Regions from separate parts of the Homo sapiens genome. Here region 2 is linked to region 1. The links come from fine-mapping of genetic effects on gene expression. A gene starts in region 1. The other region holds a variant in brackets. All regions are shown on one strand. Distances are from middle to middle. Region 1 holds the start of BEX3 (brain expressed X-linked 3). Region 2 overlaps LL0XNC01-250H12.3 (a long non-coding RNA gene).

The links.
Region 2: its variant is fine-mapped to the expression of BEX3 in whole blood (TOPMed, PIP 0.97).

Annotation. Positions count from the first base shown.
Region 1 is chrX:103,369,426-103,385,482 of GRCh38, reverse strand. BEX3 (brain expressed X-linked 3) reads right to left here and starts at 8,945. Exons shown (of 3, transcript NM_206917.3): 1 at 8,870-8,945; 2 at 8,377-8,455; 3 at 7,319-7,973. The coding sequence starts at 7,961. The coding sequence ends at 7,656.
Region 2 is chrX:103,451,362-103,467,418 of GRCh38, reverse strand. It overlaps LL0XNC01-250H12.3 (a long non-coding RNA gene), which reads right to left. Exons shown (of 6, transcript NR_188440.1): 4 at 6,065-6,204. Among named protein-coding and RNA genes, the nearest start is that of LL0XNC01-250H12.3, 55 kb to the right of the region's middle. RefSeq lists enhancers at 2,366-2,435, 2,636-2,785, 6,743-7,242. The variant C/A (reference allele first, on the strand shown) is at 7,073.

The DNA.
Region 1 (16,057 bases):
AGCCAGACAGACTCCATCTTGGCTCTTTCACTGGCAGCCCCTTCCTCAAGGACTTAACTTGTGCAAGCTGACTCCCAGCACATCCAAGAATGCAATTAACTGATAAAATACTGTGGCAAGCTATATCTGCAGTCCCCAAGAATTCGTCCGATTGATAACACCCAAAGCCCCGCGTCTATCACCTTGTAATAGTCTTAAAGCCCCTGCACCTGGGACTGTTTACTTTCCTGTAACCATTTATCCTTTTAACTTTTTGACTACTTAACTTCTGTAAAATTGTTCTAACTGGACACCCCCCCTTCCTAAACCAAGGTATAAAAATTAATCAAGCCCCTTCCTCGGGGCCGAGAGAATTTTGAACGTTAGCCGTCTCTTGGTCGCCGGCTAAAAAAGGACTCATAATTCGTCTCAAAGTGTGGCATTTTTCTGACTCGCTCGGGTACAACAATTGCCCCAGCTTACTTCCTGAAGAAAGTTTTCAGGCCACAGTGCAAGAAGTAGGAATCCAGGCAAAGCCCTGTGGTATCCCAGAGCTTAGAATAAGAAGTTGGGAGTCCAAGGAGGGCAAGGAAGCTGGAGTTCACAGGGCTGTGTCCCAGAAAGGAAAGAGCTGCACAGAGAAGGAATTCCAGAGATCCATGGAGAGCCACTCTTGAATATTTACCTGAGTACTCTTAAATAATAAACAGGCACATTAAAATTTTGAAGAGTTTATTTGAGCAGAGTTTATTCATGAACAGAACAATGCCAAACTGCAAGTGGTTCAGTGTTCCACCAAGGGGGCATGTGAGGGAAATCTTTTATAAAATGTTTTCTAAAGCAAAGCAAAGAAAAGATTTGATTTGTAAAAGTGAAAGGTTTCTAGTTAGTGGTTAATAGGCAGCTTTTGATTGGTAAAGTCTCTAGTTAGAGGTTAGTTGGCAGTTTTTAATTGGTGATGCTTAAATTTTATTTTCCTAGGCTATGACCATTCACTATGAGTTGGGTTTCAGTTTGCTTCCATAGAAACTCTAGTTTGCTAGAGTCACCTCAGTCTAATGGCCTGCCAAGTATTTTAACTAGTACTGATCATTCTGATCATCACATGTCTGTAGGGAAACTACCCTAGATCAGGAAATGATCTACCGAAAAGGATTAAAGGAAATAATTCCTTAAGTTCACACATGTTTGGGAACAGTGCATGTTCCCACTAGCCAGACTTGGAAACCTCATAATTCATAGGACATCAGATAGAGTACTCAGAAAGAATTTTCCTCATTAGTGGAGAACGATTCACTCTAAACTAAACACAACACTGATCCTTTCTTACAAAGTTTTAAAGCAAGAATCTAAAATACCAAACTTTACAAATAACTGTTTTCCAGAATAAAAATCAATATAATTCCAGGGATACGAAAATATCCAGCACTCAATAGGTGAAACTTACAATGTCTGACATCCAATCAAGAGCCTACAAAGAAACAGGAAAATAAAACCCATCATGAGAGAAAAAGCAACCAATCAAAACTGACCCAGAAGTGACAACAATGGTAGAATTAGATAAGGACATAAAAGCAGATAATTAGAACTTCATTGCATATGGTCAAGAAGCTAGAGGAAAGAGTGAATAAGTTAAGTAGAGACATGGAATATAAAAAATATTTAAAAGGCTCAAATTAAACATCTAGAGATAAAAACTACAATGTCTGAAATGAAAAAATATACTAAATGAAGTTAATGGCAGATTACACATTGTAGACGAATAGTATACCTGAAGACATAGCAAAAGAAACCATTTGAAATGAAACACAGAGAGAAAAGACTGAAAAATTAACAGAGCATTAATTGTGGTTGTGTGACAACCATATTGATAGTCACTTGAAGTGGAAATTGTCTTAGCCCTCTAATTACATGACAGAGATTGTCAGAGTGGATAAAAAAAAACAAGACTCGGCCCCTAATATCCTATAACCACAAATATAAGCTGAGCAAAAGGCCTCTTTTGCTAAAAATATAAAACATACCATGGTCCAAGCATCACTAAGACAGTACCCAACAAAGCTAGTACAACTGTAATTCAAGTAGGTCTTTATGCACACCTCTGTAGGATATAAACTGGGACATTAGCACATTGAGGTGTCTAGAGAAATCTGTAGTGATCAAGGCCAGTGGAGAGTGCAGAACTGGGAGAAGTGGGTGGGTCATCATAGCTGAGGGATGGAGTGGGACTGTGACATAGTTTGGCTACTACTCCCAGCAGCTGAAGGGGATCTGAGGTACTTGGATTCTGAATGTGCAGGTGAAAACATGAAGTCATCCAACACCATTCACTCACATGCTCTTTATCTCCTTTGGGTCCCACAGCAGCCCTGGAAATTATCATCTCCATTTTACCAATGTATGGTAAACACTAATGCATTACCATGGCAATAACTACTAAGTTTACATAATCAGCGAAAGGATCCAGAACTAGTTTGAAATTCATTATTCTTTTTCAACAAATTTTCCACCCTTTTAATGACTGACACATTAGTTTGCTTCCTCTTTTAAAAATCAAATTTTAATTACAAACTAAGTAATATGTATTAATTTAGGGAAAAAATAGACAACAACTTAAAATTAATTGATACTCATGTGATCTTAGGAAAAGAAACAAGATGTTGAAGAAAATATTTTAAAACTTTCTTAATACAGTTTGTCTTCTGCTCAAAGCAACAACAAAAACCACTTTAGAATGCATTACTTTACAATCAGAAACACAAAGTTCATTTGTGTGAAAACAAATTTTTTTTTTTTTGAGACGGAGTCTTGCTCTGTTGCCCAGGCTGGAGTGCAGTGGCACCATCTCGGCTCACTGCAAGCTCCGCCTCCCAGGTTCATGCCATTCTCCTGCCTGAGCCTCCCGAATAGCTGGGACTACAGGCGCCCGCCACCACACCCGGCTAATTTTTTGTATTTTTAGTAGAGACGGGGTTTCACCGTGTTAGCCAGGATGGTCTCGATCTCCTGACCTCGTGATCCGCCTGCCTCAGCCTCCCAAAGTGCTGGGATTACAGGCGTGAGCCACCACACCTGGCCAAAAATGATTTTTTTAAATGGGCATACATCTGAAGATTTCTCTCTTCATATGAAACTCAGCAAAGTTTATTTTTATTAAATTGGAAATATTTTCCAACAGAGTAAATTTCTAAACATGCTAATTGTGACTTTTCAAATGTCTGGCAAAAATTTTTTAAAAATTAGATTTTCAAGTTTATAGGGATGCCTTATTTATTGGGTTATGTATAGTTATATCACTTAGAAAGCATTCCAGCTGGTTACACATGAAATATTGACTACATAACATGCTATCTTTCTGAAATTTAAAAACTGGACTTTTCCAAACAAAATCAGTATATTTACTACATAATACATGTGATGTCAGGAAAGGAGACAGAGTAGACGTGGAATTTTGTCCATTTCATTTATAAAACTCAAAACTTTTTCTACTTCTAAGACAATTTTTAAGTTTCGTAAATAAATAGTTCTGTTCTAGTAAATAAATATATTTACTTTATATTTCTAAATTTGCCAAAATACATTTCAAAATTGAACTAGTTTCAGTCCCACCAACAGTGTAAAAGTGTTCCTATTTCTCCACATCCTCTCCAGCACCTGTTGTTTCCTGACTTTTTAATGATCGCCATTCTAACTGGTGTGAGATGGTATCTCATTGTGGTTTTGATTTGCATTTCTCTGATGGCCAGTGATGGTGAGCATTTTTTCATGTGTTGTTTGGCTGCATAAATGTCTTCTTTTGAGAAGTGCCTGTTCATGTCCTTCGCCCACTTTTTGATGGGGTTGTTTGTTTTTTTCTTGTAAATTTGTTTGAGTTCATTGTAGATTCTGGATATTAGCCCTTTGTCAGATGAGTAGGTTGTGAAAATTTTCTCCCATTTTGTAGGTTGCCTGTTCACTCAGGGATCTAGAACTAGAAATACCATTTGACCCAGCCATCCCATTACTGGGTATATACCCAAAGGACTATAAATCATGCAGCTATAAAGACACATGCACACGTATGTTTATTGCGGCACTATTCACAATAGCAAAGACTTGGAACCAACCCAAATGTCCAACAATGATAGACTGGATTAAGAAAATGTGGCACATATACACCATGGAATACCATGCAGCCATCAAAAATGATAAGTTCATGTCCTTTGTAGGGACATGGATGAAATTGGAAATCATCATTCTCAGTAAACTATCGCAAGAACAAAAAACCAAACACCGCATATTCTCACTCATAGGTGGGAACTGAACAATGAGAACACATGGACACAGGAAGGGGAACATCACACTCTGGGGACTGTTGTGGGGTGGGGGGAGAGGGGAGGGATAGCATTGGGAGATATACCTAATGCTAGATGACGAGTTAGTGGGTGCAGCGCACCAGCATGGCACATGTATACATATGTAACTAACCTGCACATTGTGCACATGTACCCTAAAACTTAAAGTATAATAATAATAAAATAAAATAAATAAAATAAAATAAAAAAAGAAAGTAATCACTAAGGATTTAAAGGAAAAGGAATTGATTTTTTTTAATGCAGACATGATGAGAACTTTATAAGACAAACATTGTTGTAGTTTTTCAAGATAGAAAAAAATACATTTCAAAATTGGACATTAGATCACTGTGAGTGGACTTCTGAAATGTGATGGCTTGAGTTTTGAAAATCAGGAGCTAACTGAAAGCTGATCAAATGAGTCAATCAGCTTTGATAAGTGGAGAGGAGAGATTAGAAAAATAGTAACAAACATGGCAAGCTAAACATATTTCTTTGGCAGGGGCTTTGAAAGAGGCAGTGTTCCTCATAAGAGGCTCTAAGCCTAGCTTTGTCATGATAAAATATAAGATGAAGATTTAAAAACTTACAAATGGTATCTTTGGATGACTGGATTACGGTTTTGTTTATATTCTCCCTATATTCATGATCCAAATATGTATGATGACATTATATAAATAATTATAAGAAGTACTAACATTTTAAAATGTTCTTTATAGAAATTTCAAAATACGAAAGCATTAAAAAAAACTCCACAGGCTCAAAAATGTTGTTATATATTGTTTTAGATAAACTACAATCCTGAAATAATTTAATAATTAATTAGTAAATGAATTATTATGTTATGAAACATCTACTATATTAGGCACTGTGCTAGAAACTGAGCTCCAGGGAGACTAAAACAAAATCATTGTTGTGAAAGGGCACAGGTTGGCACAGAAATGATAATGCATAATTTATTTAATAATTTCATAATTATTACATTTATTATTAATAATAAATTCATGATAAAGCATTAGTTTAATAGGATATTTGAAAAGAAGATAAAACAGTACTGGTTTAAGTATAAACATACATTGATGGCCTAATGTCTAATTTTGGAATGCTGTACTTTGGAAACGTATATGCATTGTGGAATCAAGTAAGTAAGGTAATTTGGATCACGAAATTTGTAAAATGGTGTAATTACTGTCAGTGTTTCTCTATGCCTATGTTGTCAAAACTCAGATGCATGAGAATCACTTGGGAAACTGTCAAAATAGTAATTCCTGATTCTGGTGATTCAGGTGGTCACAGTGGCTGGTTGGGGGTGGGACGAGCACCCAACTGTCAACATTTTTAACACTTTCCCTAGGTAATTATGATGCACGTAAGGCGTCTATGTTTCCCTAAACACTAACATATACAAGGTTTAAAAAAAAGTTTACAGAATTTGAGTTAGAAACTTTCCTTGCTATGTTCCTTTGGAAATAATATAATGCTTTCCACATAACTAGTTACTTGCCTTTGGCCCCTTAGTTAAGGATAGTGAGTTAGGGACAGTTTTGAGCTGGATTTCTAACTCTTAGTTAATTAATCAATCAAAATAATTAATAATTTAATATCTACTATGTCGGGCACTATACCAGAAACTGTCTGGAGAAAAGGGCACACACTCACAAAGAAATAACAATGCCAAATACTTAATATAGTTTTTAAGAACTTACAGAGTAGTTTCATGGTTCAGGTATGGACAAGAAGGGAGTGTGTTTCCGCTTTAAAGAAAATTTGTTCTCCCAATGTAATTTACATGTCTAGGTAAGTCTGTTAAACTGGGTGGGCAGGCCTGCCAAGAGTCTCCTTTGAGAAAATCCGTATCAAGGATAGAAACACAGGCACAAATAAAGCCTTCAGCCTGTTTGTATTGTGGAGGTTTGCAGTAATGCAATTCAGGGCACACTCAGATGCATTTTCTCAGTTAGGCCGCAGTGCACTCTTGTCTGAGTTATTTGAAGGAGTTATGAAAGAAAACCAGAAAGGGCTATTTTTCTAAGAACCAATGTAATCCCAAGAACCACAAGAGTTGTACTCACCAGGATAAATATAACTCTCAAGTTATAAAGACATTCTCCACAATTCTATAGAGGTCAAAGGGGGATTTGGCTCACCAGAGACTCCAGAGAAATCAGTGGGGCTTGTTACCTTGAAGACCCTAGCACCTCATCAACAGCAACAGAAATAGGATCCAGCAGAAGGGAAAGTGTGGCCAATCAAGAAGGCAGTAATCAGGGGAGCAGGAGGATTGCAAATAACAAGAATGATATGGGGGAACCCACCTATTTTCACTGTCTGGACTTGTAAACATGAGTGATAATTCCTCCAGTCCTAAGTACCTGATGGGGGTCCCGGTCCTGTTAAATGTTGGGGAGTTGGGGACAGAAGCCAGCCCAACACAGTTCCACATTTCATCAGTTCCACTCAGCAGCCCTGTAAGACAAGCATTGTTCCCCATTTCACAGAGCAGAAAACGGGCTCTTTAAAGGAATGCATCTGTAATAAAGGGAAGGTTTATTATTCCAGTTAAGACTGAAGGATAGTTAGAGTTTACTCTTCAAATTTGTTGAGCCAGTATTGTTACGTATCTGCACTACATTCATAATCTCATTGAAAAATAATTTTCATTGCTTCTCAAACTCCAGATAATAAAAGGAAAAAAATGTCACATATTACTTTTTTTTTTTTGAGACTGTCTGGCTCTGTCGTCCAGGCTGGAGTGCAGTGGCGTGATCTCGGCTCACTGCAACCTCCGCCTTCCGGGTTCAAGCCATTCTCCTGCCTCAGCCTCCCGAGTAGCTGGGATTACAGGCGTGTGCCATCACGACCGGCTAATTTTTTGTATTTTTTTTTCAGTAGAGACAGGGTTTCACCGTGTTAGCCAGGATGGTCTCGATCTCCTGACCTCGTGATCTGCCTACCTTAGCCTCCCAAAGTGCTGGGATTAGTTAACACACAGAAATGTTCACCAATTAACACTCTAGTGTATTTAATCTCAGATTTTTTTTTAGTTCATCTGTTATATGTAAGTATACATTTTTAATGAGACAATAAATGTATAGATTGCTTTTTAAATTGCTTTATTAGCTTTAAATTTTTCCATGCAAATGGGTGAAACTACTGCTGACAGAAACTTACACTGAGTGCAAAGGCAATCTTCAAATAGAAGCTGGCAACACAAGACCCACTTGACACATGGAAATAACATAGGGTTCACAGCAAACGGATCAGTAAAGGCATATTAGGAAAATGCAAGGAAAAAGAAAACAGCGGGAATCACAGTATTAATCTCATGATAAATGGCAGGAGTCAAGGCATAAGGCAAAATTCATCATGATGGTCATGGTGATTAGAGAGCTCCCCCATAAGGATACGCAGACAATTCCTCAACTGCAGCTCCCTAAGTTTTCTTCTGATTTCTCTCATCTCCTCCATGAATATTTCCATATCATCTCCATCTCCACCCATCCCATCATTGATCTGCCTATTGGGTATGGCCCATCGAAAATTAGGGGCAAGTCGGCGAGCCTGTCCCCGTCGATTTCCTGCAGGCTGGTGGCCTTCACCTCCTCCCAAAGGGCGGTCTTCCTCTCCATTCTGCATAGGCTGCTCCATCTCTTCGTTTTCCTGGTGAATATTTGCCATGATGAGATTTTTTTTTTCTGGTTGTTTTTCTTTGAACACAAGTAAGACAAAGGCAAGGAGAGAGACTGAATGCTTGGTGCTCTGACCAGCAGGATTCAGAGCCCTGATATCAAAGGATTTTTTAATTTCGTTTTTTCCCACCTTAGAAGTTCCGCGCGTCCTCTACGGGGCCTCCAATTAAAGCCCCTCCCTCCAGCTTTCTCCCCTTACCTCCCTTCCCCCAAACCCACCATTTTTCGTTTCCCGGGATTCTTTCCCAGAGCTTTGCAGGCACCAAAATGGAGGACCGGTATAGGAGTGGGGGATGGGGTGGAGGGGGTTGGGGTCTCAGACTGGGCTTTCCTTACGTTCCGACCCCCGCCCCACCACCGTCCCTCGCACCGACCTGGGCCTATCCTTGCAGTCTCCTTCTCCTCCGGATTCTCGCCGCGAGGTGCGCCGCGGAGACACTTAGCCTCGCAGACCTGCAGTCGAGCCGGGGTGGGGGTTGTGGGGGGTGGGGGCTGCTGCAGCGGAACGCTAGCGAAGACCCGCCGCCGCCCGGCCCTTTCCGTGCTCCGAGCCCGGGCTCCCCTCGCTGCCAGCGCCCCGCGTCTCCCGCCCCCCACCCCCACCCCACCCTCGAACGCCCAGCCCCCCGCGGTGTTCGCTGTTTTCCTGCAGGGACTCGGGGGTGGGTTTCCATCGCTCTTGGTGGCTCTGCCGCCCCTGGAAACCCAGCCGCCCCTGCTTCCCCATCCCTGGGGGCCTCTGTGTTCCCAAGCATGTTGGGGTGTGGAGAAAGCTGGCGGGGACCCCCTGCGCTGTTCTGCGCCTGTCGCCGAGGTCGGTCAGCCGCTGCTGGCATGGCCGGGGCTCACGGGCCCCGGAGCCCTTACCTGCTCCGCTTTTCCCCGGGCCGAATGCCAGCCCGCCGAGCTCAGGGCAGCGGGGAGCTGGTAGCCAGACGCGAGTGACGACTGCACCGAAGGCTGCGTCGCTCTGCAGCTCTGGGTCACGTGAGGGCCGCGCGTCACCACCGAGCTCGCCCCCCAACTTGGGCGGCCAGTGCAGCAGGATCTCCCCCTTCCCCCCACCCGCCACCGCCATATGCACGCGCAAAAAACAGCCTCCCTACTCCCGTCTGCATGAGGTGCCCCAGAGCGCACAGCCCTGTCACTCTTCTCGGTCCTCTCCAATCTGAGGGCCCACAAGTGGCATCACTGCTCTGCGGTTGGAGTTTGCCCTCCTCTGGTTACCAGGGAGGGTCTGCATCATCCTCCACCACTGCCCCCTCTCACTTCAGGCCTTGGCTTTGGCCTTTTCTGCTTTCTCTCCTTTTCTACCTGGCAACATGCTTTGCGCTGCACTCCCACTTCTACCCCTTGCGTGTGCACAGCCATCAATGCCCACGTAGCCCCTGAATTCCTACCCTTCTAGAAAATTTAGAGTGAGGGCTAAGGTGGGGAGGCAGGAGGGCATTTGTCAGAAAGCGGGGCAAGGAAGTGGAGTGGACTGTATATATTTCTTTTTATTTCCTTAAAAAATCTGCATGCTTCAGAAAATTATAAATTATAAGTTTTTAATTTTGAAAGAAATGCTGGTTGGGCGCGGTGGCGTACCTGTAATCCCAGCACTTTGGGAGGCCGAGGCGGGTGGATCACTTGAGGCCAGTAGTGTGAGACCAGCCTGGCCAACATGGTGAGACCCCATCTCTACTAAAAATACAAAAATTAGCTGGGCGTGGTGGCGTGCGCCTGTAATCCCAGCTACTCGGGGGGCTGAGGCAGGAGAATCGCTTGAACCTGGGAGGCGGAGGTTGCAGTGAGCCGGGATCGCACCACTGCACTCCAGCCTGGGCGACAGAGCAAGACCCTGTCAAAAAAAAAAAAAAAAAAAAAAAAAAAAAAGGAAATGCTTTATCCTGCACAATGAAATCTCTCATTGTTTATGTTGACCTGTACCACACAAAATATTTTTTCTGGGCTCCACACAACATCAAGCCATTACTTTTGATACATACTAGCTCGTTTAAAATTTTATTTTTGGCCGGGCATGGTGGCTCACGCCTGTAATCCCAGCACTTTGGGAGGCCGAGGCGGGCGGATCACGAGGTCAGGAGATCGAGACCATCCTGGCTAATACGGTGAAACTCCGTCTCTACTAAAAATACAAAAAAATTAGCCAGGCGTGGTGGCACGTGCCTGTAGTCCCAGCTACTCGGGAGGCTGAGGCAGGAGAATCGTTGAACCCGGGAGGCAGAGGTTGCAGTGAGCCGCGTCGCACCACTGCACTTCAGTCTAGGCGGCAGAGCGAGACTCCGTCTCCAAAAAAAAAAAAAAGAAAAGAAAAAAATATATAAAAAGGCGGGACTCTTTCTTTTTCTTTTTTTTTTTTCCCCCGAGACGGAGTCTCGCTCTGTCGCCCAGGCTGGAGTCAGTGGCGCGATCTCGGCTCACTGCAAGCTCCGCCTCCAGGGTTCATGCCATTCTCCTGCTTCAGCCTCCGGAGTAGCTGGGACTACAGGCGCCTGAAAGGCGGGACTCTTTCTGAACACAGTTGGTGTTTTCGAAATGATCTGTAAAGTGAATCTTCAGGGAGCAGTCTGGTCGTCAGATCTTCACCATTTTATGTAACTTTGATGTTTTTGATATCACAGTCATCAGAGAAAGGGAGTCTTTTATTCCCTGCTTTCCTTTCCAAACCTTTCAAACCATCCCTACAAATATCTTCTTAGTATGAGCTCAGAAGTTAAGTACATATTATGCAGAAAGTAGTTTCAAAACCATCTACCCTTTGGTGCGAATGTTTCAAAATATATTAGAAATAAGCAGGGGGTGTGTGAAACAACTTAACTTGAGACTGAACCTTATCCTGAGTGCAAATGTTCCTTTCTCCAACTTGAAATCATTTTTAAAAAAATTATCACAGCTAGAAAATAGAGATGTCTTTAGAAAAGTGGCATTGTTATAAAAAATATTTGATATCTGTTGTTTATGATAAGGAACCAAAAGCATTAAATGCAGCACTGAGGCAAGACAAGCCAGACAAATGCTTACTAACTCTAGTTTTGGCCCCAAACTCCTGTAGAATTTCCTACCCTGCTAAACCAGATGACACAGTGAATAAAGGAAGAGTATATGCCCAGTGTGTATGTAGTTAGACGTTTTGGAGATATGTATTCCATATAAAATTACATATATATTCTTCTAGAGGTATATGGATATATTAGTACATAGCTCCAAAACATCAAATTATAAAATCACACTCAATATTTGTCTTTTAAAGAAATGTTAGTGATTCCTGGATTCTGTCTCACAGTTAAGAACTTTTTATACAGATTGCTATATTAATGATATCAGCTGGAATGATGCAGTTTCAAAGCATGAACAGTAGTATCAGACAAGTCTGGCTTCAAATTCAGTCAGCTGTTTACTTGATGTTCAACTTTGGATCAATTACTTATCAAGGTCTGTGTGCTTCCTCTGTGAAACAAGGATTGTTAGAATTACACATAACAATAATTTACTACATAGCCTAGTAAATCATCAATTTTTGTTGACATTATTTTTATTGTTATTCGATGGTTTCTAACATGATTTAAAGAGTAGCAGAGTATGATTCTTTCCTTAGCTAGACCCACTTGTTCTTAAAATCCATGAGGGCCCAAAACATGCTTGCTGTGTTCTATTTTGTGTACCCAGTGACTAATAGTGTTCCTTGCACCAAGTAGGTGATTACTGAATACTTGTTGAATGAATGTATCCAGTACTGAGGCGAATAGGTTGTTTTTCATTCTGGGGACTGTATTTAGAGCAATACGGAAAAGCTTTTATGAAAATTAAGAATTACCTAGAAAAAAATCTCCTGAAAGCTGAGAAGCCACTGTGATGTGACTATTGGATATGAAGTTTAGCAAGTGGATTTTTATTTCTTTTGGTGGCTAAATGCTTTGCTGTTTTCCTTTTCACCCATCTTGGATAAATCCTGTGTTCAAAACCATCAAATTTCCTTGGATGAAAACAGACATTTGTTTGTAACATCCAGATTGGATATTATGCTATATTGATTAGTTGTAATAAAGTAATGTTTTAAAGATAGGTGAAAATTATCCGGGAAATGCTGTTATCTTTACTAAAATGTTGTGAATAGGAGTTGATTGAGATGTTTTCTTGACCCTGAAGTTTTCTGAGGAGTTGGAAATAGACAGCACACTGTTGAGAACAAAAACAAATTTTTTCAAGGCCAAGTTAGAAGGACACTATATTCTGCATTTGGGATTCATGTGTCCCAAAAGGCAGAGAGAAGGTGAACTGATTAGATGGTTCTTATCCCCACACACACGTTTTACACATGTTTCAAGCCCAGGAGCCTCAATTCTAATCTGCCCTGGAGGCACCAGGAGGACTCAGAATGAAAAGTGAGATTGGCATTTGAAAATGAATAGAACCAAATCTTTAGTCTGACTGAAACTATTTTAATAAGCAGTAGTGACTGAAAAGTTGGAGAACTGGACAGAAATGTAGTTAAAGAAGCCCATTGCCCCATGCGAAGTGGGGGAGGGAGTGATAGAAAGAACACTGCTGATACAGCTATTGGAAAAATAAAACTGTTTCATGATTTGACCTCAACTAGTGAAGATCCCTCTATTGTATTAGTATCCCATCAGTGGAAGCTCGTTTTTGCTGAAATCTTTATGTGTATTGCCATGACATGGCTCACATGTACTTGTCTGAAATGCACCTGGTTGGACTGTGGTTATTGTCCTGTTTTCCTCTCATTATCTCTCCTGTGTAAATGCTAGGCTTGGGAGAAGGTAGTCTGAGCCCTAGTGGGCCCTGTGGGTATGAGTATCTCTGTTCCTGCCTAGAATAGGTTCTCTATGTACCTCTCTGATGCTTTACTGATACTTTTTTATTGTGATTCTCTCTTTCTCTCTAAATTTAAGCACCGATTACAGACTGAAACTAGGTGTTAAGAATATAGGAAATTATGCCTACTCCAGCTTTCCTCTAAGCTATGGCCATTATAACTTTGATGCCAAGATTTCCAAAATGTGGAATGAATCTGATGAAATTTTAAGGGTGTCACTGTAAGAGTTTCAATGATTTGGGAGATAATATATTTAATTCAAGAGATCTAGTCTGAAAAAATAAAAGGGCTATGAGACTAAGATGTCTGAACGTGAAAGCAGCAAATATTCAGCACCTCATTATCTATTGGGGAACTGAGGGGTATTCTTTTCTTTATTTCATGGATTGCAGATAATATCTTGAGACACCGGAGACCCGTGGCCACTCTTTCCTGTTGTTTAGGACTCTGGTGGAAAAGGAGCTCTGCCCTATGCAGTCTCCTAAACTGATGACATTAGCTGGACTATGTGTAGGCCAAGAGAACTCCTTTGGCCCTTCTAGCTTTAGGCTGAGGTGAGCACCTTTCTTACTTTTCCCAGGACTTAGGGATGAACTTTGAGGAGTAACAAAACTCATGCATAAACGTTCATGAAGTCACTTTATCTTATTTCACTGTTACTACTCCCATGTAAGTTCCATTGCTAGTATACAGTGCAACAAGGGGAACCTGATTTTTTTTTTTTTTTTGAGACGGAGTCTCGCTCTGTCGCCCAGGCTGGAGTGCAGTGGCACAATCTCAGCTCACTGCCACCTCCGCCTCCTGGGTTCACACCATTCTCCTGCCTCAGCCTCCCGAGTAGCTAGGACTACAGGCGCCTGCCACCATGCCCGGCTAATTTTTTATATTTTTTAGTAGAGACGGGGTTTCACCGTGTTAGCCAGGATGGTCTCGATCTCCTGATCTTGTGATCCACCCGCCTTGGCCTCCCAGAGTGCTGGGATTACAGGCGTGAGCCACCGCGCCTGGCCAGGGAACCTGATTTTTCACACAAATTTAAAAGACAGAGAAGAAACAGGAGAAATATATTTATACCATATGTGCTATGGGTTGAATTGTATCCCCCCAAGATATATATTGAAGTCCTAAGCCTTATAACCTCTGATTGTGACCTTGTTTGGAAACAGAGCCTTTGAAAATATATTCAAATTAAGGTGATGTCATTAAGCTGGGCCCTAATACAATATGACTGGTGTCCTTATAAGAAGAGGAAAACCAATCCAAGGACAGAGGCAGAGATTACAGTGATGCAGCTTCAAGCCAAAGAATGCCAAGGGTTGACAACCATGACTAAAAGCTAGGAAGAGGCAAGAAAAGAATCTACCCAGAGTCTCTGAGGAAACATGGCTCTGCTGACTCCTTGATTTTGAAATTCTAGCTTCCAGAGCCATGAAAGGACACATTTTTGTTGTTTTAAGCCACCCAGTTTGTGATACTTTGTTACAGCCATCCTAGGAAACCAACAATATGTGAAAGAAAAAGAAAGTTAACATCCATTATATTTAAAGAGCTCTTACAAATTAATAAGAAAAAAATGAACATACCAATGGGAAAATGAGCAATGGATATGAATAAGTAGTTTACAAAAGAAACAAACATGGCCAATAAAAAAATTTATTATTTTAACAAATAATAGTTGAGCATTTATCATGTGCAAATTGCTGTTTTAGGTACTAAGGATGCAGGAGGAAACAGCGTAGACAAGGGCCCTGTTGTCAAAGACCTTCCATTATATTGGATAATGTTGGGGCTTAGAAACTGATACCCCAAGATATGGTGCTTTGACATGCTGAACTGAAGAGGAACCTCAAGGTCCGTCTGACCTTTCCCACACACTTCTTCACTCTCAATCCTGTCTCTCACAAAGCACAGGATGAAGTTGTTTTCTGAAGTTCCCTTATTTATCTAAAGTCCAGACTCATTAAAGAAGAAAACAATTATCTCTAGTCCCTTCCCTGAGCTTTCATTAACTACACTCATATCTCAGGAAGAAAGACTGAAGTCTGTCAACATGCCTAGACAGACTTTTGTCACAAGCCATTGTCTGCTTTGGATACCCAACAGACTATGTCCCAGGTCATTGTATGTTCTTCAAGCCCATTGAAATAGGATAATAAAATAAACTGTGAGGCCAGAAAAATGGATTAGTAGGCTTATAGAACAGTGGATTTTATAGCTGTGTTTTCTATGCCTTTGCCTAATTTTGGATTTATAGGGTAGGTTTTATGATCTCAAGTACTAGGCCTTCACAGATTGTGTACTATGAAAACCAAAACAACCTTAGAAATATTTTAGTACAAGGGTCCTATTATTCAAATTGAGAAACTGAGACCCAGAAAAATTAAGGGGCTTGCTCAGGTTTCCAAGAGGGTAGTAGTAGAACTAGATGTAGAGATAGCTTTGTTAGATCTACTAACTCCCAGGAAAGAAATCTTTTTCTTTTTCACTTGTTTTCTTAGTGTCTTAGTCAGTTTGGGCTGCTATAACAAAATAGCAGCTGAGTGGTTTAAACAACAAACATTTACTTCTCACAGTTCTGGTGCAAGATCAAGATGTCAGTAGATCCGATGTCTGATGAGGACCCACTTTCTGGTTTGCAGATGGTGATTTTCTCTGTAACATCACATAGTGGAAAGCAGAAAGAGGGGAAGCAAACTCTCTCATGTCTCTTCTTATAGGAGCACTAATCCCATTCATGAGGGCTCCACTCTCATGATCTAATTCCACAGACTCCACCTCCAAATACCATCACACTGGGTATTAAGCTTCAACATATGAAGTTTGGGGGGACACAAACATTCAGTCCATAGAACTTGGCCTATTTTATTTATTTATTTACCTTCTAGGATTATACATATTGTGCATAAACATCTAAGGAAATATTTGAATATTTTATCTATGATTGCCACCTGTCAATCTTAGTCTTCTGTCCCTCCTCTTATATCTTAGAAGAGGGCTTATGACAGTTTCAATCAATAGGGTAGAAGAGAGTAGAACTGATACTATGTGAGTTACAAGGCCAAATCATAAAAGACCATACAGCTTCACCCCTATTTACAGGAAACATTTGTTTTTGAAGCCCTGAGATGGCCATGTTGGATATGCTACATGTGAACCCTCTAGTTGACAGACCCAGATAAGCCTGTCCTTTAGTGTTCTCAGTCTCTGCTATCTCA
Region 2 (16,057 bases), 82 kb before region 1:
CACTTCTCAGGAACATAGTACGTGAATTGAAAAAGTTACTGTACATTGGAAAACTTGGCAAACACGACTTTAACTATGTGATGAAGGTTAACATCACCAGTGAGGTCATGTCATCATGTAAACCCAAATATTATGTGATAAGAAGGGCACTTCAACTCTGTGGTATTCTTTCTGAAATTCCATAATGCTGGTCTAATCATGAGAAAAAGACAACAGATTAAGGCTGTACTCCTCAAGACTGTCAAGGTCAATAAAATATTCTGAGAGTTCCTCATATTGTCAAGCAGAGAACTGCCATATAACCCAGCAACTTTACTCCCAGGTACATACTCAAGAGAAACGGAAACCTATGTCTACATAAAAACTTGCACAAAAAATATATGTAGCATCATAATTCATAATGGCCGAAAACTGGAAACAACTCAAGTGTTCACCAATTGATGAGTGGATAAAAAAATGTGGTATATCAATAAAAAGGAATAAAGTACTGATACATGCTACAAAATAGATAAACCTTAAAAACATTATGTGAAGTGAAAGAAGCCAGACACAAAAGATGAATATTGCATGATTCCACTTCTATGAGATGTCCAGAATAGGTAAATCCACAGAAACACAAAGCATACCTGTGATTCCTGGAGCTGGGGGTGAAAGCAGGGATTAACTGCGTTCAAGTATGATGGGACATTTTATAGTGATGGAAACCTCCAAAACTCAACTACGGTGATGGTTGCACAACTTTTGTTTACTGAAAATCATCAAGTTGTATCCTTAAAACTGCGAATTTCATTGTCTGTAATTATATTGCAAGAAAGCCTTCTGTTGTACCTCAGTAATGACCAAACTTTTTCATATGAAGGCCTTGATGCCCATGTTTTCTATACCCATGAATATATATAAAACCGTAGCTGTATCCCAGCCCTGCTGACTGTGTCCTAAGTAACTCCAAGCAATGGCAGTCTCTCCCTGCCCCACCACCACCACCCCTCACGCTGACTCGGGCTTTGCTTGTATGAAAAATTCGAGTTGCACCTGATCACTTCCACATCTTCTAACTGTGGAAGAAACTGGAGAGTGGGTCCACAACAGCATCCAGGGCCTCCACTCTAACATGACATCAGCATTATTATTTTTTACTCCTCTTGGGATTTTCTCCTGTGACTCCACCTGAGGAATCTAAATGGCATTACCTCTCTGGGTGTCAGTATTGCAATACTTATCAAAGGGCTACATAGGTGCACACCCTTTGCACCAACAATTTACCTTTTAGAAGTTTATCTTCAGGACATTGTGAAGGATGCTGATAAGCATCTGGTTATAAGTACTGTCATTCTGAAAATTCCCTTCCTTTATTTCTGGGCCTGAATTTAGGAAGAAAGACCAACCGGTACACCAAATTATGAAGGGGCAGAAGGAAGCAGAGGGAAATGCTGTGCACACACACAAGCAGTGACAAATACACACACATGTACAGCAACCAGGTTCTGTTATTAGTACTGTAATAACCTCCAAGACAGTTAGTAAGGCTCTAAGAGGACCCATTTGGCTCACCAGTGTAAACAGCTACAGGAACTGTGCCCTTCAGCCATGCACAGACTCTGAAAAGATGTCTTCCACACAGTGTAGATAACAGGGAATATCAGAACACTCTGACTAACACAGGTTTGAGAAAACTGATGTCATATCCATAGGATGGAATTCTAGAATTCAGCAAAACAAGTTTTAATGAAGATAACGATGAGAGGTGATTTGTTGCCTGTAAGATTAGCAATGATTCACATTATTTCTAATGTGTGAAGACACAAGGTCCTTACATACTGTTATGTAAGGAATATAAGTTAGAAATAGTATTTGGATTTCACTATGTTAATATAAAATTTTACAGTTCCCAGGGTTTTGAAAGACCACTTCCAGGAACTTTTTTTTTTTTGACAGAAATGCTTACAAATATATTTGCATATATATGAGGAGGATATTAAGTATACTATTGTTTGTAACAGGAAAAAATGTTAAAGCAACTACATTTTTATGACTGGGATACTAATTAAATGAATTTTTGGGGCACCCACATGATGAACCACCTGGTTGATAAAAAAAAGAGACTACAATTATTTTTGGAAGGAAATTTAAAACATTATTATGGAAACGCATGTGTATGCAAAGATGATCACAATGAGGGCAAATGTGGGTCACAAAGATCACTTAGTGGCCAAGATGCATTTTTGCTTATATAGGTCTATAGCTATTTATCCAGAGGTTTGAAAGCATAAACACAGAAATGATCATTTTGTGCTTTCACATAGCACATAAAGAGGCTACACTTTCTGTCTGGTGGCCGTCAGTATCCCTGTACAGTGGGAATGCCCATTTTTCTACTCACACTTCCAGAAAACTCTGTAGGGTGTGCATGGGCCACAGCACCTCCCTCCCACCTTCCTGCTCAGCGATGTTCAAGCTGCTGCAGTTCAGGCTTCTGTCATGAGGGGGCATCACTGTACCACTATTATCAAACTTCTCTACAAAGTGTAAGCAAGGAGCAGAAAAATACGGTATCCTCCCCTAAAACCCAGTCTATGAAAGGAACTGCAGAATGATTCTGTCTGGAAAAAAAAAACAACCCTGACAGGTGTAAAAAAGAGTGTAAAAACATACTGTGGGACATCCATAGGATGAAACACCAGGTAGGTCTGATGTGCCTTGGCTGTTGCTGGGAGGCAGGATTGGGGGAGCCCAGGGCAGCAGGAAGTGACTGAAAGGATGAGGCGCTGGAGTGGGGTCTGGGCAGATGTGTCCACAATGTCTTGGAGAGGGGGGTCAGTGGGAGGGAGTGGGAGAGAGTCTGAGAAGCCTGTACAGGGTTGGAGTGATGGGTGGTGAACACCCTGCTCTCCAGGAGGGACCCCCCCCTACAGCGTGGACACCTCAACCTACGCTAATGAAGGAAAAAATAAATTACTGAATGCGCTGTAGATTTGGAATCAACAGCAAATTGGCCTGCTTTAATATACAAATGGGTATTCCGAACTATTGGTATCACAGTAAAGAAAAGTTTCATAACATTACTTACTCTGCGAAATTTACCCCTTTTCATTAAGAAAGAGCAAGGAACGTGGAGATAGCTGTAATGCCTCTTGGTGGCCAGAGTCAGGATTGCAACTCTGAGTGTAGACCAGGGGACTCAGCAGCGGGCAGGGAGGGATGAAAGTTGGGAGCTTGATTAATGGGATCAGACATGGTTTTCTGGAACTTTTCACTTACATCCAGCTATCCTTCTGTATCCATCATTTTTTCTGGAATATTAACAGAAGCACTTTTTGTGGGATATCTAAATCTGAGATCAGAAGCCAGTCCTGGTCTGAACTGAAGATAATACTGCAACTGTGAGCTGTACTTGAGGTGGTGGAGCTAGACTAGCTAGAAACACACACACACACACACACACACACACACACACACACACACACACTCCATTCATTTTTTAAAATCTGCTTTGTTTCCCCATAAAATTGGCTACAATGAATGCTTTTCCAAAGCAAAAAAAATATATATATATATATGGAATATATGTGCACATTACTTTTGTCAATCTGATGATAAGTATTTTGTTTTCAATTTTTATTAAAATACTTTTTCCCCCCGAATACAAAATTTCAAACACTATGCAAAAGCACTTCAATACATTTAAATCATCCTGCATCTCTCACTGACCCTACTCCTACCCCCTGGCCCCAAGGGGTCTGTTGTCCCTTAGGATAATGCACGCTCTCCAGACGCATCCCTGTAGGTGACGTGCACACGAACATGTTCGACCCCCAACACACATCATAGTCCTCTCCAAAAGTGCAATCACAGTCCTCATCTTCTTTGACAACCTATCTTTTCCACTTAAGATACCCCTCCCTCTCCCTCCTCCTTCTTCCTCTTCCTCTTCTTCTTCCTCTCTCTCTCTCTCTCCTCTTTTCCCTTCAAAGTTAAAGCTCTAAAAATAGTTTTCTGCATTCCTTGTTAACATTCTTTATTCGCCACTAACCCCCTATCCCACTGCACTATGACTTCCATTGCCAGGATTGTAATGAATGTGATCTTACCAAGGTCACCATTCACCTTTTTGTTACTAGGGCCAGTGTTTGTATACATCTATTAACATACTAAGTATTACTTTAAATGCATTCCTAAAACATGCACGCTTGTGCAGACTGTTTCTTTCACCTAAGAAATCTGTGACAGTTTTCAGGCTCTGAAGCATGACATCCTGGACACAAATCCAAGCTGTCCCACTCCCTAACTGTGTAGTCTCAGGCAAAGTCCTTATTCTCTCTGCCACTCAGTTTCTCATCTATAAAGTGGGAATCAGCAAGGATATCTCTTTTTTTGAACATTACTATTACCTTTATTTATTTTTTCAATTGATATATAATATAGGGTTACATATTTTGGGGGGTACATGTGAAAATTTAACACACTCATATATTTGTAAAGATCATATCAGTATAACTGAGATATCCATCACCTTAACTATTTGTTTTCTTTATGCTAGAAACATCTAAATTATTCTCTTAACTATTTTGAAATACACAACCTGCATTCTTAAAATCTCTAATTTTCACTACAACCAACCTTGGATGACCTAAATTTTAATTAACTTAAGAACATCTCAAAAGCACTTGGAATGACTGATCTCACAAAATAGCACTATCGTTTTTCCACATGGCTGTACAAAAAGCTGAGGGGTCATACTTTATTCTGCCTTATCCCCACATACTTCACACACACAGCTACTACAGGTCTTACCCTCCCTACCTCCAAACACATACTGTCAAGGTCCATTTCTCCCTCTACACATGGCTGCAGCATTGATACCATCAGCTTGCTCCTCCCTAGACTTCCGCAATATTTTCTAATGGTTATTCTCACACACTATCTTCTCCCTCTCTAGTCCATTCTTTGCACAGTGACCAGAGTCACTTTCTGAAAACATGAGTCAGATGATATTGTTCCCATTCTCTAACCCTCCACACTCACAATACAATCCAAACTCCTTACAATGGCTTAAACAATATTGCTCCTATCTGCCCCTTCAACCTCATCTCACCAGTCTGTGCATTGTCTGCCAGGCTCTAGGCACTTGAGCTTTTCCCTGCTCTTGGAACACACGGTGCCCATGCACATTGTATACACACTGGCAAAAAGTCAGTCTGTGCCTAGCTTCTTTTTGTTATCCAGGACTCAGCTCAAATGTCACTTCCTGAAAAGGAGCTTCACTTACAACCCCATCTGTAATTATCTTTATCTTGGTCATTTAATACTCTATATGTGTTAAAACACAAATCCCCATATGAAATTACCCTGCTCATTGATCTGTTTACCTACTTATTACCAGTTTTCTCAAACTAGAAATGATATGTCCGGGGACCATGTTTGTCTTGTTCTCTGTGCTGTTTCCCCGGTGCTTAGATCAATGCTCCACACATAAATCACTGAATGAAAATTACTGAATTAAAGGAACTGGTACCTATTTCACAAAACAGAAATGACACAGATATTAAAAGCAAAGTAGTAGGAGCAACCAATGATGAAATTAGACATGAAAGGATTCAAATTTTTCATAGACCTTGTTGCAAATCCACAGCAGTGCTTTTCAAACATGGATGAGTACCACAACCAATTGGAAAAATTTCTCAAAATATAGATACCTGCCACCACATCTCCCTGTTTTTCATTCAGCTGACTTATGGTAGACCCAAATATCTACTATTTTAACAGGCAATCCATGATGATTTTGATGAAGTAGTCCACGAACCATACTTGGCAAAATTCTGATGAAAACACCTCACATTACTGTGCCATTAATTTAATGCCCACCATGGAGAACTCTAGGACATCTGGATTGTCTCTGTTAAGGTAATTACTCAAAAGTGACTGGTCCTTCCCTCCCACCTAAGATCACAGTTTGCTTTCCCATATGAGTTCATTGTTAATCTCCAGAGTATTCTTGAGTGGTCAGGAAGATTGGGAATTATTATCCTGTTGAATAGATGAGGCTGGTGTAAGGGAAGTGACTCACCTAATATGTCCCAATGATGAGACTTTCATCGCTTCACTCTTGCTCCAGTAGCCTGTCTAGCAGACTCCACATCACATTTGGTTTTTCTCTGTTAGCTCCTAGTTCTAGGGCACAGAGTACACCCCTTCTCTGATGTTACACTAGAAGGGAGATAAGAAAGCACATGGAATAGTGAGGAAAGAAAGAGGACAGGTAAGGAGGTTGTACGTGTGATGATGTTTTGCCTATACCCCATTCAGTTAACTGGAAGCTAAGCAATGAGGTTTTTCCTCTCCCTCAGCTTCATCTCACTGTCCCCACCACCACACAGCAGTGATACTCAAGATTGCACATGACAGGCTGGGCACAGTGGCTCACGCCTGTAATCCCAGCCCTTTGGGAGGCCAAGGTGGGCAGATCACAAGGTCAGGAGACTGAGACCGTCCTGGCTAACATGGTGAAACCCTGTCTCTACTAAAAATACAAAAAAATTAGCCAGGCATGGTGGCATGTGCCTATAATAGTCCCAGCTACTTGGAAGGCTGAGGCAGGAGAATCACTTGAACCCAGGAGGCAGAGGTTGCAGTGAGCCGAGATTGCATCATTGCACTCCAGCCTGGGCACCAAAGCAAGACTCCATCTCAAAAAAAAAAAAAAGATTGCACATAATAAGAAATGATAATAGAAATGTAGACTTAAGTCTTAGCCAAGATGGCCGAATAGGAACAGTTCCAGTCTACAGCTCCCAGCGTGAGCGACGCAGCAGATGGGTGATTTCTGCATTTCCAACTGAGGTACCAGGTTCATCTCACTAGGGAGTGCCAGACAGTGGGTGCAGTGCACCGTGCGTGAGCTGAAGCAGAGCAAAGCATTGCCTCACCCAGGAAGCTCAAGGGGTCAGGGAATTCCCTTTCCTAGTCAAAGAAAGGGGTGACAGAAGGCACCTGGAAAATTGGGTCACTCCCACCCTAATACTGCGCTCTTCCAATGGGCTTAACAAACGGCACACCAGGAGATTATATCCCGCAC[C/A]TAGCTCGAAGGGTCCTATGCCCACGGAGCCTCCCTCATTGCTAGCACAGCAGTCTGAGATCAAACTGCAAGGTGGCAGTGAGGCTGGGGGAGGGGCGCCCGCCATTGCTCAGGCTTGAGTAGGTAAACAAAGCAGCCAGGAAGCTCGAACTGGGTGGAGCCCACCACAGCTCAAGCAGGCCTGCCTGCTTCTGTAGGCTCCACCTCTGGGGGCAGGGCAGACAAACAAAAGACAGCAATAACCTCTGCAGACTTAAATGTCCCTGTCTGACAGCTTTGAAGAGAGTAGTGGTTCTCCCAGCACGCAGCTTGAGATCTGAGAATGGACAGACTGCCTCCTCAAGTGGGTCCCTGACTCCCGAGTAGCCTAACTGGGAGGCAGCCCCCAGTAGGGGCAGACTGACACCTCACACGGCCGGGTACTCCTCTGAGACAAAACTTCCAGAGGAACGATCAGACAGCAACATTTGCTGTTCACCAATATCCACTGTTCTGCAGCCTCCGCTGCTGATACCCAGGCAAACAGGGTCTGGAGTGGACCTCCAGTAAACTCCAACACACCTGCAGCTGAGGGTCCTGACTGTTAGAAGGAAAACTAACAAACAGAAAGGACATCCACACCAAAAACCCATCTGTACATCACCATCATCAAAGACCAAAGGTAGATAAAACCACAAAAATGGGGAAAATACAGAGCAGAAAAACCGGAAACTCTAAAAATCAGAGTGCCTCTCCTCCTCCAAAGGAACACAGCTCCTCACCAGCAACAGAACAAAGCTGGATGGAGAATGACTTTGACGAGTTGAGAGAGGAAGTCTTCAGAAGATCAAACTACTCCAAGCTAAAGGAGGAAGTTTGAACCCATGGCAAAGAAGTTAAAAACCTTGAAAAAAGATTAGATGAATGGCTAACTAGAATAACCAATGCAGAGAAGTCCTTAAAGGACCTGATGGAGCTGAAAACCAGGCACGAGAACTACGTGACAAATGCACAAGCCTCAGTAACGGATGCGATCAACTGGAAGAAAGGGTATCAGCGATGGAAGACGAAATGAATGAAATGAAGCATGAAGAGAAGTTTAGAGAAAAAAGAATAAAAAGAAACGAACAAAGCCTCCAAGAAATATGGGACTATGTGAAAATACCAAATCTACATCTAATTGATGTACCTGAAAGTGACGGGGAGAATGGAACCAAGTTGGAAAACACTCTGCAGGATATTATCCAGGAGAACTTCCCCAATCTAGCAAGGCAGGCCAACATTCAAATTCAGGAAATACAGAGAACACCACAAAGATACTCCTCGAGAAGAGCAATTCCAAGACACATAATTGTCAGATTCATCAAAGTTGAAATGAAGGAAAAAATGTTAAGGGCAACCAGAGAGAAAGGTCGGGTTACCCACAAAGGAAAGCCCATCGGACTAACAGCTGCTCTCTCGGGAGAAACTCTACAAGCCAGAAGAGAGTGGGGCCCAATATTCAACATTCTCAAAGAAAAGAATTTTCAAGCCAGAATTTCATATCCAGCCAAACTAAGCTTCATAAGTGAAGGAGAAATAAAATACTTTACAGACAAGCAAATGCTGAGAGATTTTGTCACCACCAGGCCTGCCCTAAAAGAGCTCCTGAAGGAAGCACTAAACATGGAAAGGAACAACTGGTACCAGCCACTGCAAAAACATACCAAATTGTAAAGACCACTGAGGCTAGGAAGAAACTGCATCAACTAATGAGCAAAATAACCACCTAACATCATAATGACAGGATCAAATTCACACATAACAATACTAACCTTAAATGTAAATGGGCTAAATGCTCCAATTAAAAGGCACAGACTGGCAAATTGGATAAAGAGTCAAGACCCACAGTGTGCTGTACTCAGGAAACCCATCTCACGTGCAGAGACACACATAGGCTCAAAATAAACGGATGGAGGAAGATGTACCAAGCAAACGAAAACAAAAAAAAGCAGGGGTTGCAATCCTAGTCTCTGATAAAACATACTTTAAACCAACAAAGATCAAAAGAGACAAAGAAGGCCATTACATAATGGTAAAGGGATCAATTCAACGAGAAGAACTAACTATCCTAAATATATATGCACCCAATACAGGAGCACCCAGATTCATAAAGCAAGTCCTTAGTGACCTACAAAGAGACTTAGACTCCCACACAATAATAATGGGAGACTTTAACACCTCACTGTCAACATTAGACAGATCAACGAGACAGAAAGTTAACAAGGATATCCAGGAATTGAACTCAGCTCTGCACCAGGCGGACCTAATAGACATCTACAGAACTCTCCACCCCAAATCAACAGAATATACATTCTTCTCAGCACCACACCACACCTATTCCAAAATTGACCACATAGTTGGAAGTAAAGCACTCCTCAGCAAATGGAAAAGAACAGAAATTATAACAGACTGTCTCTCAGACAACAGTGTGATCAAACTAGAACTCAGGATTAAGAAACTCACTCAAAACCACTCAACTACATGGAAACTGAACAACCTGCTCCTGAATGACTACTGGGTACATAACGAAATGAAGGCAGAAATAAAGATGTTCTTTGAAACCAACGAGAACAAAGACACAACATACCAGAATCTCTGGGACACATTCAAAGCAGTGTGTAGAGGGAAATTTATAGCACTAAATGCCCACAAGAGAAAGCAGAAAAGATCTAAAATTGACACCCTAACATCACAATTAAAAGAACTAGAGAAGCAAGAGCAAATACATTCAAAAGCTAGCAGAAGGCAAGAAATAACTAAAATCAGAGCAGAACTGAAGGGGATAGAGACACAAAAAACCCTTCAAAAAATCAATGAATGCAGGAGCTGGTTTTTTGAAAAGATCAACAAAATTGATAGACCGCTAGCAAGACTAATAAACAAGAAAAGAGAGAAGAATCAAATAGATGCAATAAAAAATGATAAAGGGGATATCACCACTGATCCCACAGAAATACAAACTACCATCAGAGAATACTATAAACACCTCTATGCAAATAAACTAGAAAATCTGGAAGAAATGGATAAATTCTTCGACACATACACTCTCCCAAGACTAAACCAGGAAGAAGTTGAATCTCTGAATAGACCAATAACAGGCTCTGAAATTGAGGCAATAATTAATAGCTTACCAACTAAAAAATGTCCAGGACCAGATGGATTCACAGCCGAATTCTACCAGAGGTAAAAGGAGGAGCTGGTACCATTCCTTCCGAAACTATTCCAATCAATAGAAAAAGAGAGAATCCTCCCTAACTCATTTTATGAGGCCAGCGTCATCCTGATACCAAAGCCGGGCAGAGACACAACAAAAAAAGAGAATTTTAGACCAGTATCCCTGATGAACATTGATGCAAAAATCCTCAATAAAATACTGGCAAACCGAATCCAGCAGCACATCAAAATGCTTATCCACCATGATCAAGTGGGCTTCATCCCTGGGATGCAAGGCTGGTTCAACATACGGAAATCAAAAAATGTAATCCACCATATAAACAGAACCAAAGACAAAAACCACATGATTATCTCAACAGATGCAGAAAAGGCCTTTGACAAAATTCAACAATGCTTCATGCTAAAAACTCTCAATAAATTAGGTATTGATGGGATGTATCTCAAGATAATAAGAGCTATTTATGACAAACCCACAGCCAATATCATACTGAATGGCCAAAAACTGGAAGCATTCCCTTTGAAAACTGGCACAAGACAGGGATGCCTTCTCTCACCACTCCTATTCAACATAGTGTTGGAAGTTCTGGCCAGGGCAATCAGGCAGGAGAAAGAAATAAAGGGTATTCGATTAGGAAAAGAGGAAGTCAAATTGTCCCTGTTTGCAGATGACATGATTGTATATCTAGAAAACCCCATTGTCTCAGCCCAAAATCTCCTTAAGCTGATAAGCAACTTCAGCAAAGTCTCAGGATACAAAATCAATGTGCAAAAATCAGAAGCATTCTTATACACCAATAACAGACAAACAGAGAGCCAAATCATGAGTGAACTCCCATTCACAATTGCTTCAAAGAGAATAAAATACCTAGGAATCCAACTTACAAAGGATGTGAAGGACCTCTTCAAGGAGTACGACAAACCACTGCTCAATGAAATAAAAGAGGATATAAACAAATAGAAGAACATTCCATGCTCATGAGTAGGAAGAATCAATATCATGAAAATGGCCATACTGCCCAAGGTAATTTATACATTCAGTGCCATCCCTATCAAGCTACCAATGACTTTCTTCACAGAATTGGAAAAAACTACTTTAAAGTTCATATGGAACCAAAAAAGAGCCTGCATTGCCAAGTCAATCCTAAGCCAAAAGAACAAAGCTGGAGGCATCACGCTACCTGACTTCAAACTATACTACAAGGCTACAGTAACCAAAACAGCATGGTACTGGTACCAAAACAGAGATATAGACCAATGGAACAGAACAGAGCCCTCAGAAATAATGTCACATATCTACAACTATCTGATCTTTGACAAACCCGACAAAAACAAGCAACGGGGAAAGGATTCCCTGTTTAATAAATGGTGCTGGGAAAACTGGCTAGCCATATGTAGAAAGCTGAAACTGGATCCCTTCCTTACACCTTATACAAAAATTAATTCAAGATGGATTAAAGACTTACATGTTAGACCTAAAACCATAAAAACCCTAGAAGAAAACCTAAGCAATACCATTCAGGACATAGGCATGGGCAAGGACTTCATGTCTAAAACACCAAAAGCAATGGCAACAAAAGCCAAAATTGACAAATGGGATCTAATTAAACTAAAGAGCTTCTGCACAGCAAAAGAAACCACCATCACAGTGAACAGGCAACCTACAGAATGGGAGAAAATTTTTGCAAGCTATTCATCTGACAAAGGGCTAATATCCAGAATCTACAATGAACTCAAATGAATTTACACGAAAAAAACAAACAACCCCATCAAAAAGTAGACGAAGGATATGAATAGACACTTCTCAAAAGAAGACATTTATGCAGCCAAAAAACACATGAAAAAATGCTCATCATCACTGGCCATCAGAGAAATGCAAATCAAAACCGCAATGAGATACCATCTCATACCAGTTAGAATGGCGATCATTAAAAAGTCAGGAAACAACAGGTGCTGGAGAGGATGTGGAGAAATAGGAACACTTTTACACTGTTGGTGGGACTGTAAACTAGTTCAACCATTGTGGAAGACGGTGTGGCGATTCCTCAGGGATCTAGAACTAGAAATACCATTTGACCCAGCCATCCCATTACTGGGTATATACCCAAAGGATTATAAATCATGCTGCTATAAAGACACATGCACACGTATGTTTATTGCGGCACTATTCACAATAGCGAAGACTTGGAACCAAGCCAAATGTCCAACAATGATAGACTGGATTAAGAAAATGTGGCACATATACACCATGGAATACTATGCAGCCATAAAAAATGATGAGTTCATGTCCTTTGTAGGGACATGGATGAAGCTGGAAACCATCATTCTCAGCAAACTATCACAAGGACAAAAAACCAAACACCACATGTTCTCACTCATAGGTGGGAATTGAACAATGATAACACATGGACACAGGAAGGGGAACATCACACACCGGAGACTGTTGTGGGGTGGGGGGAGGTGGGAGGGATAGCTTTAGGAGATATACCTAATGCTAAATGACGAGTTAATGGGTGCAGCACACCAACATGGCACATGTATACATATGTAACAAACCTGCACATTGTGCACATGTACCCTAAAACTTAAAGTATAAAAAAAAAAAAAAAAAAAAGAAATGTAGACTTACGCCTGCTTCCTGTCACATTTCCAAGTATTCTCTTTGGTATTCATGATGTGAATTTTAATGTCAGAGGCATCGCACTGACAGAATGAAGGAGGCAAAGTTGGAGTGGGGAACTTACATTTGTTGAAGGCCTACTAGATGCAACACGATATGGGTTGTTATCTTCAGACTTTTTCTCTTCAAATGCTCAAAGCCATGCTCTAAGGTAGACATCATTACTTCCTTTCTACAGATGGGGATATAGTCAGGTTCAGAGAGCAAAGTACATGCTCAAGGAATTTTAGGGAGGTGTTAATTGGACACTGAAGCCAACTTCAAGGTCCTTCCACTGGCCAATTCTGGGACAATTTGAGCATCGAAATTTATAATAATAATAATAGCACAGGGTAATCCTTTCAGAAAAATGAGAATCTCTGAGTCACACTGATATACATACATACATACACAGATAAATAAGAAGAGAAAACTCTGCCCTTTTCTAAATGCCAACTCATAGTTTTGAAAGGAATATCAGAATTTTAAAAACAACACTTCACAACTATCATCGAAATAAGTGACTCAGGCAAAAATCATAAATGGACACTCACTCTACACTAAATCCCATAAGAGTCATGGAGTCACCATGGTAACCAGGCTAGCCAAGGAACACTGGGAAAAAACAAACAACCCCCTATATCTTGTTACCAACATGTGCTAGGAAATGAATAACACTGACGTAATACATAGTAATTTGTCTCAACATCTCATAATACACATTCCTGGCAGCTTCAGCAACACACAAATTGATACATTCACAAATACTCATATAGATGCATTGCCTCTCCCCAGTGCTCTCTCACCATCCAAGATCCCAGGAATTTTTTAAGGTGGGTTTACTGGGGACAAAAAAGTACAACCTCACATTTTAACATATTCAAATATAGCAGAAACATAAAGTTGAAAGCTACTAACCTATATTATTTTAGTCATTGATTTTTCTGGAGATTACCTGTAGAACTGTCAGGGGTACATTTTTATCCCTAGTTTCAGTGTATTGCCAATGATTTCTAAAAGCTGATATAGAAATACATGTACATGCACATTAAGCATCAAATACCTTTTCCATCCTAGAGTAGCCTGTGCTTTTTACCAAGATTCTTCAATAGTCATTATTAATAATCTGGTTGCTGGTGGTTCCATGAAAATGTAATGATTAAGAATTCTATTTAAGAAATAATACCATTGACAGCAGCATCAATAAGTATGAAATATTTATGAATTATCTGTTCGTAGATATGGAACATTTGTACATTGAATACTACAAAACATTGCTGAGAGAAGGAAGACCCAAAGAAGTAAAGGACATACTGTGTTCATGAGTCAGAAGAGTCAGTATTGTTAAGACGTTTATTCCCCACAAACTAATATACAGATTCAGTGCAATCCCAATAAATGTTCTATACATTTTTCAAAGAAATTGGCAAGTGGATATTAAAATCATATACAAATACAGAACACCTAAACTGTGAAAAACAACTGTAAAATGGAACAAAGGTATAGGACAAACACTACCTAATTTCAAAACTCATTATAAACCTACAGTAATCAAGACAGTGTGCTATTGCCATTGAAGGGGAAAAGTAGATCAAAAGGACAGAATAAGGAATCCAGAAGTAAACCTATGCACACACGGACAACTGATTTTTGACAATGATGTAAAGACTATTCAGTGGAAAAGTAAATAGTCTTTTCAACGAATGGTTCTGTAATAAGTAGATATCCATATACATACACAAAAATAAACTGTAATCCATATATCACAACATATACAAAATCAACTCAAACTGAATATGAGACCTAACTATAAAATCCAAATGTATAAACTCCTACAAGAAAAGACAGGAGTAAATCCTTGTGACTGTGAGTAGGTAAACATTTTTTAGATAGGACATCAATAAAAACATCTTAACCCTAAATAAAAAAATTATAAATGGCACTTCCTCAAGGTTAAAAATTTCTGCTCTTCTAAAAGCCACTGTTGAGAGAATGAAAAGATAAGTCAATGACTGGGAAAAAGTATTTGAAGAATCGTATAACTGACAAAGAATTTATATCCAGAATATATAAAATCATTTAAAAGTAAAAAGTAAACAGACACTCCAATAAATAAATGGGAAAATAATAGAAACAGAAACTTTACCAAAGAATATATACAAATGGCAAGTAATCACATGAAAAGATGTTTAACAATAATAGTCATTAAGAAAATGTAGGCCAGGTGCAGTGGCTCATGCCTGTAATCCCAGCACTTTGGGAGGCCGAGGTGGGCAGATCACGAGGTCAGGAGTTTGAGACCAGCCTGGCCAACATGGTGAAACCTTGCCTCTACTAAAAATACAAAAATGAGCCAGGTGCAGTGGTGGGTGCCTGTAATCCCAACTATTCAGGAGGCTGAGGCAGGAGAATTGCTTGAACCCAGGAGGCAGAGGTTGCAGTGAGCTGAGATTATGCCACTGCACTCCAGCCTGGGTGACAGAGCAAGACAATGTCTTGAAAAAAAAAAGTAAATTAAAACTCTAATGAGATATTACTATGCACCCATGAGAATGGCTAAAGTAAAAAAGACTGACCATACCAAGCTTTGGCAAGGTTGTGGAGAATGGAATTCTCATATACTGCTGATGGGAATGAATAAGGAATGGTACTACCACTTTGGAAAACAGTTTGGCAGTTTCTTACAATGTTAATCTCACATCTACCACATGATCCAGCCATTGGACTCCTAGTATTTACCCTAGAGAAAGAAAGCATGTGTACATATAAAGACATTTACACAAATGGTTATGGCAGCTTTATTTAGAAGAACCCCAAACTGAAAACTACCTACTGTCCATGAAAAAGTGAATGGATAAAACAAATTGTGGTATATCCATATACTACTTAGCAATTTTAAAAAGGAATTATTCAATCATGCAACAATAAAGATAAATCAAAAAGTTAATAGGCTGAATGTAAGAAGCCAGACCAAAAAAATACATATTGTATGATGCCATTTACATAAAATTATAGGAAATGTAAATCAATCTACAATGACAGAAGAGCAGTGGTTGCCTGGAAATGGAGAGAGATAGGAGGGACATGGAAGCTGGAGGGAGACAGGTAGGTGGGATGATTACAAAGGGGCAGGA